Linked DNA regions of Homo sapiens: all the other regions are reported to be linked to region 2. The links are microRNA targets in miRTarBase. Many come from high-throughput screens and were not tested one by one. Region 2 holds a microRNA gene; each other region holds the end of a gene's coding sequence.
What was found. The annotated mature microRNA hsa-miR-6125 reads GCGGAAGGCGGAGCGGCGGA and lies in region 2 at 1,698-1,717, shown strand. An mRNA with a match to its seed (bases 2 to 7 or 8) in the 3' UTR can be bound and repressed. Matches are read on the target gene's strand: a 7mer-m8 pairs with bases 2 to 8, a 7mer-A1 pairs with bases 2 to 7 and ends in A, and an 8mer does both.

Region 1: miRTarBase lists PTBP2 as a target of hsa-miR-6125. The part of its 3' UTR that is shown has no 7-base or 8-base seed match.
Region 3: miRTarBase lists LCE1B as a target of hsa-miR-6125. Seed matches in the 3' UTR shown: 7mer-m8 at 2,818-2,824.

The regions. Positions count from the first base shown.
Region 1 is chr1:96,813,165-96,816,456 of GRCh38, forward strand. PTBP2 (polypyrimidine tract binding protein 2) reads left to right here. Exons shown (of 14, transcript NM_021190.4): 14 at 112-1,885. The coding sequence ends at 241. Among named protein-coding and RNA genes, the nearest start is that of PTBP2, 93 kb to the left of the region's middle.
Region 2 is chr12:62,258,721-62,261,720 of GRCh38, forward strand. It overlaps MIR6125 (microRNA 6125), which reads left to right and starts at 1,639; the gene lies at 1,639-1,734. It overlaps USP15 (ubiquitin specific peptidase 15), which reads left to right and starts at 1,684. Exons shown (of 22, transcript NM_001252078.2): 1 at 1,684-1,783. The coding sequence starts at 1,695. It also overlaps a transcript of TAFA2 not described here. RefSeq lists enhancers at 940-1,009, 1,560-1,919, 2,140-2,189, 2,913-3,000 and silencers at 1,270-1,329, 1,410-1,519.
Region 3 is chr1:152,812,316-152,815,670 of GRCh38, reverse strand. It overlaps LCE1B (late cornified envelope 1B), which reads right to left. Exons shown (of 1, transcript NM_178349.2): 1 at 2,563-3,355. The coding sequence starts at 3,224. The coding sequence ends at 2,868. Among named protein-coding and RNA genes, the nearest start is that of LCE1B, 2.0 kb to the right of the region's middle.

The sequences.
Region 1 (3,292 bases), not on the chromosome of region 2:
GTTCTTTTCGTTTATAGAAATTTTTGATTCCGGAATGGCCAAAATTCAAGTATTTAATAAGCCCTTTCTAATTTGTATGAAGTGTCTAATTTTATAATTTTGTTTCAGAAGAGATCACAAAATGGCTCTTCTTCAGATGGCAACAGTGGAAGAAGCTATTCAGGCCTTGATTGATCTTCATAATTATAACCTTGGAGAAAACCATCATCTGAGAGTGTCTTTCTCCAAGTCAACAATTTAAAAATGGGAAGATGAAGATTGGGGGTGAATCACATTGTTCAATGTCATCACCTATTTGACTGTTCAGAAAAGTGGGGACCAGAGTTTGATTTTTTTTGTTTTTGTTTTTTTGGGGTTTCTTTTTTTTTTCCATGCTGTTATCATTCCTTGGTTATAAAATGAAATGGCATATGTAAAGGCAGAGTTGTTAACTGCTATATTTCATCTGTTCTATAGGGAAGCCATTTTGTCTGTTTAAAATTTCAGTTTAATTTTGCTTTTTTTTTTTTTTTTTTTTTCCTTTCAACTTAGTTGACATACGTGCCTTAAAAAGGAAAACTAGTGTTGCTATTGTGCATTTACTAGAAAAAAGGAATTGGTTGTTTAGGGCACACTGTTATATGGGAATTAAAATATGTTTAGGCAGGGGTGTGTAAAAAGGTTAAGTTTTTGTTTCTCCTGCTTGGAACTTATTTTGAATTACTGGCTTGTCACCTTTTTTTCTATTTAATCAAATAAGATACATGATATTGAAAGAATAAAGCAGCATTTTTAGTTTTTACTACCTTAGGCTTTATTGCTTTGAAAACAACATTGGCCTTTTGTATCTCACAATTCTGGTCTAGATTCAGTTATGAATGTAGGCATTAGTTAAAATTAACAAGATGCAGAGTATTAATTTCTTAAGACAACAAAGTGATTTCTGTAAGTTTGAGCCCTATGTGGAAAGCATTGTGGAATCTTAACCTTTTCGTACACACTCTTGTGGGACGTATCATATAAATGTCAGCACTAAGTAATGTCTTGTTTGTGGCTGAATATTTTTCGTAGATGTTTTTGAAGTTGACATGACTTACGTGCATTTAAATATATATTGCCATCCTTAGTTTGTAATTAAGATTTGGAATATGGTTGTGGATTTCTGAGCATGTGCAGACTGGTCTAGCTAGTTCAGGAACTGGTGCATGTATTTTTCAAAGATAAAGAAAGTGTACTGCGAAAATATGCAGGAAGATTAATTTTGTGGCAGTTTTCTAAAACTGACAACCAGGTGGGACCAAAGTTTATGTGCCTTTAGTCTTAATTTACCTTGCATTGTAATATTCAGTTTTAATAAATCTTCAAAATATTTTGTATTTAGGAATAGATCTGACTTTAATAAAAACATGGCTCAGAATCTACAGGTCAAATTAATTTGAACAGTTCTTGTCAATCCGAATTGTTGATTCTGTTTAAATGACCAATACTTTTTGAAATTGATGTACTTAGTTTCAAGATTCATAGATTCTGTTATCTATGTAGACAGAATGGTCATGTATATTTTCTATTAGTTGAGTTTTTACATCTTTAGAAATGTAAAATTCAGTATAGTTTGAAAGCGGCACAATTAAAAATTAATTTTCTAACAAAGTTGGGAGGTTTGATGGTTGTTTAATTTCATTTTGTGTGTACTCTGCTTACCCCTGTAGCATGCTCAATAAACACTTCTGTAGCTCTATATTCACCTTTTCTGTCTTTCTCTGCTGCCTTTTCTCTCTCCTCTTCTTTGTTTTCACTCCACTGTGCTTCTGAATTCATGTTTATTCTCTGCCAGGGTGGGAAAGGAGTAATAATATTACAATTCTATGGCTTTATACCATAAATAAATCTAGATGCTGTGAAAATATACCAGCTGGTTTTTTTTAATTTAAAAGATGGTAACTGCTTTTCAGGAGGACACATATTAAACATTTCCCACCCTGTTATAATCTACTGCTTTAAAGACATAACTTTTATTGTAGCTTGTTAATTCTATCTCTTTTGTTCTTGTTGTTTTTTTTTTTTTTCCAGTAGATTTATGCACTAATAGATCTTTTGGATTTGCCATGCTCTCTTGCTGCAGTTTCATCTTTCATCTTTTGTGTCTGCTAAAGATTTCTTACTAATCTTAGACTACCTTGTGAGTTAACAAAAAGAACTTGATATTACTGGGAAGAAAGAGCAGCATATCTGCATATCAGCATATCTGCTTTTGCCTTGGGTGGGAAGAATGATATACATTCAAGTATTTAAAAACTTAGAGTAATTTGCATTTAACAACTGAGGATGTTACTACTGTAACTTGTTAAGCAGTTACAATTAGGGTGCTATTTATATTCAAAATATTTCGGTCAGTTTTTCTAAACAGATATATTGGTATCAAATAACTTTGGAGTTACACATGTTTCTTAGGTTTGTTCTGTTATAAAATATCCCACACTTATGCAAAACTTACACATAGGATAATAAAAAGTAAATGAAGGAACATAAAATATGTTTTACTATACTTAATGTAGTAATTCAGTTACCTCCAAGAAAGAAGAATATAATAAGTAAAATAATTTTGTTTACACTAGTGTCACTGTTGTCATCTGAAGAAGAACCATTAGAGTCAACAGTCTGGGATGATTTGGAAGCTAGGTGATCTGTGTTTTTTTCTTAAAATAACATCGTAGCACAGAGGAACTCTACCAGCATCAGATAAGTCTAAAGTCTAAAAAACCAATACCAGGGTTAGTGAATAGTAATTGAACAAAGCTTCTCAAGGTGAAGTTTTTCTCAGTAATTAGTGGTGGCTATAATATTTGAAAGTAGGTTCTGTCACCTTTTCAGGTGCTCATTGTGGGTGGGATTGCCTTGGGAAGGAGAAACTAAGTCCTGAGCTGTGTGTGTGGACTTAGTTTGTGCCAGTTGCTAAGCTGGTGGGAGTTCCCAGTCTCCCTAGTGGGAGATAACCAGAAACCAGCTCTTCCTGCCTAAGGACTACAGCAGATTCTATACTGTCTTACAGTATGCCCTAATACGGCCTTCCTTCCAAAGCACCAAGTCACTAAAGGGGGATTTTGACATTCTAGAATATTTTTAATTCAGTACATCAAATTAACCCAGGCCTTGGCATATAGTGAATTGCTTATTAAAAGTTAGGTAAAAATAAAAACAGCTTTGTCGTATATTAGTACTCTATGACTCTTAGAGTGAACAAGCTAACAAGTATTCTTAGGACTTAGCTGCTTTGTTAATAGAGGTCTTAACTTGAATATTTAGAAATAATCAG
Region 2 (3,000 bases):
AAGAACTTTGCAGCTAAAGGTTGAAGTGAGGTTTGAACTTACATCCATGTAGCTCCAATATATGTTTTCCATATTCTGCAGCTTCCCTTCAGAAAATTACTTTGTTCTCTTTCAGAGAGTGACTGGAAAAAGGGGGAAAATGTGACTTTTAGAGGGTAGCCGTGGTTAGAGAAACTCTTAATCTTTTAACCTGTCAGGAGAAAAGCCAGAAATAGCAGTCACTGAAAGTTGTTTTAAAACTCTCAATTCAAGGTTGGCATGATAATGCAAAATAGTATTATTACGCAGAAATAAGCAATCATAATCATAATACTGATATACACAAATCATAATGCCAATATACACTACTTTCACTTGGATTCAGCACTTCCTACTAGCATAACTACACCTACCTTTATCGCATTCTCACCAAATGAGTTAGGGTTTAAAATGGGCAAACGAGAAATGATGTGGGGATTCCGGCCCATCTTTTAGACTTTTCACATCAATATGGTATGTTAAAATCACACCCCTGGACATCATGCTCGGGAATACTTAAGTAATTTTGCCACAATTCATTTACTAAACAAATATTTAGGTAATTTTTACATGTCCATCAGTACTGTGCTAACCACCAGGTGTACAAAGGCTAAAACAAAAGATGAACCCAGTTCCAGCTCTTAAAGAGTTTACATTTTAGTTCAGGCTTTCAGAAGGAGAGGCAGTGAGTGTGCTATACTGTATAGCATGTGGGCTCTTGAACCAGCCTCTCCACTCACCTCTCCACCTGCTGTGTGACCTTGGCATTTGATTTTTAAGCGACTCGATTTTCTATTTTGTAACATAATCGTTGACTTCAAATTAAAGACATATCTAGTTTCATTTCAGGTGTACGGCACCATACGAAGATGGGGCTAAGAAAATGTTACTATCCTGTATAAACAAGAGGGTTTCTCGCACGTTTTCTTCCTTTAGTATCTGGCATTATTCAATACTGTCCATATTCTACTCCCTGTTCACCGATGAACTGGGACATGTTTTTCACTGCAGCTTAGTCGTCTGGGTGTGCCTGGGGAGGCGTCACAAAGAGCCTATAAAGGGTCCCCACCTACAACGGGAGTAAGAGCGCTGGAAGGAACCCAGGAAGGGCATGGAGACCAAGCGTTCGGTTTCGGAGTGTTTTTTGTGTGTGCCCATATTCACCGAGCTTGGGTTCTCCCACTCGTAACGAAAAGCCCAGTCACTGAGCTGCTACATTTTCTGCCATATCTTAGCCGTCCCCACGCCCCCACACCACCGCCCCACCCTACCTCACCCTCAAGCGTGAGTGAATGCGCAAATAAGGGTTTTCAAGGCGTCAGTGGGAAAGAGGGAGGGGAAGGCAACGCTGAGGACGGGAGGACAGGGCGGTGGCATCCCTCTAGCGAGAGAGAGCCAGAGCCCTCGGCGGCGAGGAAAGCTAAAACCCGGCAGTCCCGGGCCAGAGGAGGCCAAGGCAAGATGCTGGACGGGCGGGGACCGATGGGGGGCAGCAGACCATGGCCGCGCACCCAGTGCGCCCCCGGGGCCTCCTCTTGTCCCGAGGAGCACCCCCGCTCCCGGTGTCTTTTGGTTTCGACCGGCCGACTGGGAGGGGCCGTGGGACGCCATTCCCATAATGCTCTGGGGCGTGCCGCCGCCGTCGCTGCCACCTCCCCTACCGCTAGTGGAAGAAGATGGCGGAAGGCGGAGCGGCGGATCTGGACACCCAGCGGTCTGACATCGCGACGCTGCTCAAAACCTCGCTCCGGAAAGGGGACACCTGGTAAGAGAAAGGGGTTGAGATGCCCGCGGTTGCCCGAGGATAGTGGAGAAGTGGGCGGGAGCCGCGAGCTGGTTCTTTCGCTAGTGACAGGTGCGGGCAGGTCCGGCGGCGGCCGCCGGGGCAGCGGGATTTTGGCCGCTTCTGAAATGTTGGGGCAAAGGTTGGACTCTAGATGAGGGTCAGGGTTCTTGGCTTGCCAGGGCATGCTGAAAGGTATCCGGGGAGCGGCGGCGGCGGCGGTTCTGACTCGTGCGGTTCTCTTCGTCCTCCTTCCTTCCGTAGTGCCGCTCCCACCTCAGGCCTTCCCGAATGATAGGTTATAGTGGTTTGGTTTGAGTCTTATATACGCCGTTTTGACAGGTCCCGGTGCCGCGGCTTATCACGATCTCACCGGCTTTACTTCTCTGTTCATTTCCTTTCCTAGAATTGTCGGCGTCCAAGTTCCCTTTTATTCTGATTCTTGGTCTTCCGGGAGGCAGGCTGCAGGATGTTTGCGGTCTGTACTACACAGGTGGCATGTCAGGGCTCCACATAAGAGAAAGAAACCCTAGTTTCCAGTTCCTTGTCAAAGGAGGGAGAGGAGTAGGGAACCTTGGGCTTATGAGAGACCACGTGGTCTTGTGCTTTAGTGGTGGCTTGATAGAAGCCGGCAGCGTTTCTGTTAGACGTGCAGCCCTTCCCTTCTGTTTGAAAGATAATGTAGGCCTGCAAAAAGTAGATAAGTCCACTTGAGGCTTAACTAACTGCTAATATTCAAACTTGTAAAATACCAAAGGTTATACATTTAAAATACTGAAGGATGTATGTGGACATTTTCACACTTGTCGACCATATCAAGTGGCATCTACAATAACTTAAATATGTGAATATGTAACATAATTTAAAATTCCTTATTTTTTGGGAAGCATAATGTGCCTCTTCATTATAATAAAACATATTTTCACTTTCCACTGTTACCATAACAGTAGTATATAATTCATAGAGTGTTTCAGTATGGCATAGTGAAAGGAACAGTAAGATTTAGACCTGAGTTATGTCACAGTTTCACCACTCAACTTGCAGTATGGCTTTGAGGAGAGTTAATTTAAATCATTGCACCTCATTATCTTCATGCTGTAAAATGGACAGTAATTTTATTATAAGGATTTTATCTTGATTCGTTTTAATATCTTAAGAATTTCATATTTATGAGATATCAAATTTTAGTTATCCTCTTA
Region 3 (3,355 bases), not on the chromosome of region 2:
AAGGTACTAAGCCTAATACCCACTAGTTATTTTTCCTGATCCTCTCCCTTCTCCCACCCTCCACCCTCTGACAGGCCCTCTATGTGTCCACGTGTTCTCATCATTTAGCTCCCACTTATAAGTGAGAACATGCAGTGTTTGTTTTTCTGTTCCTGTGTTAGTTTGCTAAGGATAATGGCCTCCAGCTCCATCCATGTCCCTGCAAAGGACATGATCTCATCCTTTTTTACAGCTGCATAGTATTCCATGGTATATAGGCACCACATTTTCTTAATCCAGTCTATCATTGATGGACATTTAGGATGATTCCGTGTCTTTGCTATTGTGAGTAGTGTTGCAATGAACATACATGTGCATGTGTTTTTATAATGGAATAGTTTATGTTTCTTTGGGTATGTACATAGCAATGGGATGGCCGGGTTGAATGGTAATTGCTGGTCTTTGAGAAATTGCCACACTGTGTTCCACAATGGCAGAACTAATTTACACTCCCACCAAGAGTGTATAAGCATTCCTTGTTCCTGGAGGCAGAATATTTTTTCCGTCTCTGGATATCAGTCTTTTCTCTTAAGACCTTTGACTGATTGGTTGAGGCCTGCCCATATTATGGAGGGCAATCTGCTTTACTCAAACTCTGCTGATTTAAATATTAGTCGCATCTAAAAAAAAAACATGTTCACAACAACATTTAGACTGGTGAATGGTGCTAGAGCAAGATCTAGGAACCATAGCCTAGCCAAGTTGACACATAAAATTAACCATCACATATGTACATATTTTTGCAAATACAATGGCAAATAAAATTCAAAAAGGCTGGGCACAGTAGCTCACACCTGTAATCCTAGCACTTTGGGAGGCTGAGGTGGGTGGATCACCTGAGGTCAGGAGTTCGAGAACCGCCTGGCCAACATGGTGAAACCCCATCTCTACCAAAAATACAAAAATTAGCAGGGCATGGTGGCAGGTACCTGTAATCCCAGCCACTTGGGACGCTGAGGTGGGAGAATCGCTTGAACCCAGGGGGCTGAGGTTGCAGTGAGCCGAGATTGTGCCACTTCACTCCAGCCTGGGCAAAAGAGTGAAACTCCATTTAAAACAAGCAAACAAAAAAAATTTCAAAAAACATGTTCAACTTTACTGATATTCAAACAAATGCAAACAAAATAAAAAAGAAATATCTTGAATTTGAGAAAGGAGACTAACAGATTTATTTACTTATTTCAAAATGACAATTATTTTAATGACTAACAAAATAGTATGTGACAGTTGGTAATAAACATATTTTGAGATGGCAATGTGAATTGGCATAACAATTCTGGATAGCAATTTGATACTTATTGAGGTGTAATGAGTTTAAATTTATAATAAGCAAATCTTTTTACACAAAAACATTGTGTTATAGGAATTTACCTGAAAGTAGAGTTATAATGTAGGAGAGATAAATGGATAAGGATGGTCATCACAGGAAATTAGATATAATAAGAGTTCAACAAGAAGAAATTGTAATGGCCTTCCTTCAAGTAGTTGTGTTGCAGGACATTGCTGATTTTGCTCAGGACCCATCCTCACCACCTCTCTTTGCTTTACATATGTACATAGACTCAGGGTATGAGATAAATATATTTTAAAAAACTATACTCAACAATACCAGCAACACTATAATAATAATAACAGTTTTGTAAAAGAACATCAATTATACTAAAAAAGTTTTGGGAAAATGTTTGAAACAAAATAGATGTTTAGGCTGGGGGCTGTGGCTCACGTCTGTAATCCTAGCACTTTGGAAGGCTGAGGTGGGCAAATAACTTGAAGTCAGGAGTTCAAGACCAACCTGGCCAACATGGTGAAACCCCATCTCTACTAAAAATACAAAAAGTAGCTGGGCGTGGTGGCACACACCTGAAATCCCAGCTACCTGGGAGGCTGAGGCAGTAGAAATGCTTCAACCCAGGAAGTGGTTGTTGCAATGAGCCGAGATGGTGCCACTGCACTGCAGCCTGAGCGACAGTGAGACTCCAACTCAAAAAAGAAGTTTAACTATTCTCTCCTTCATAAGTTTTTAATTCAAAGGAATAAATATTAAATTTGCAATAGAGAAAGCTGGCAGATCAAGTGGTCAAAGTTGTATCTCCAGGAATGGGACAATTAGACATCATGTAAGGCTTGATATCATGCTCTAAGGACAACATCACTTTTGTAGGATATTTGCAAAAATGTGTAATCTGAGCCTGGTCAAGAAGAAACATCAGAGAAACCCAAATTGAGGGGCATTCTACAAAACCAATAGTTCTTTAAAAAGGTCAATGTCAAGGAAGACAAAGAAAGACTGAAGAGCCATTTCGGTTTGGAGGAGACTGAAGAATCATGGCAACTATGTCAAGGCAATGGAGATCCTGGATTGGATTTTGAACCAACAAAATTGTCTTTTGTTATAAAGGATATTAGTAGGAAGATTGGCTAAATTTGAACAAGGTCTGTAGATACTAACATCTTGGGAGAGCCTGGAGATGAGGACAGAGTATGAAAAGCAATGAAAAAATAACAATCAGTCAAGGCAAAAAGGAATGCATATTTCTGGTTTTATTGTTTCACATCAGGCTGAGCTATGCAAAAAGACAAGCTGCAAAGGGATATAGGTCTGTGCTTTGGGCTTCCCAGAGCAACCACACATACGCAAACTGAGGTCATTAAATGGCTTGGCTTTGGGGGAGAAGTTTTGGGCCTCTGAACTCCAAGACAGAAGAATCCTCTATGCTTGAGTTGAGCCCTCACCAAGACCTCTCAACAACATGGGCAGGCCCAGAAGGAGAAGGAAGACGGAAGGGAAATATTTGGCCATTTGTGTTCTTCTAGGCTCAGGATCCACTTTAGCAGCAGCCTCCAGAGTGCTGGCCACTCCCTCCTCCACAGCAGCTGGAGCCCCCGGAGGGCTGGCTGCAGCAGCCAGAGCTCTGGGGTCTGTGGCAGTGGGACCTACGGCGCCTGTGGTGGCTCAGGCAGCAGCCACCTCCCCCAGAACTGCAGCAACCCCCAGAGCTGGAGCCACAGCTTCCCCCAGAGCTGGAGCCACAGCAGCCTCCGGAGCTGACACTGCAGCAGGAAGAGACTGGAGGACACTTAGGGGGACACTTTGGGGGGCATCTAGGGGTGAGGCACTTGGGAGGGCACTTGGGGATGCACTTGGGAGGGGGCTGGCACTGCTGCTGGTTCTGCTGGCAGGACATCTTGGTGCGGGTGTTCAGGAGCTGAGAGAGAGTCAGACAGCAAGTTAGACCCAGGTAGAGGCCACCCCGGCCTATTCTTGCCCTTTCAGCATCATTTCTAATCCCTACATTTTGATGAACTGCTTAGTGTA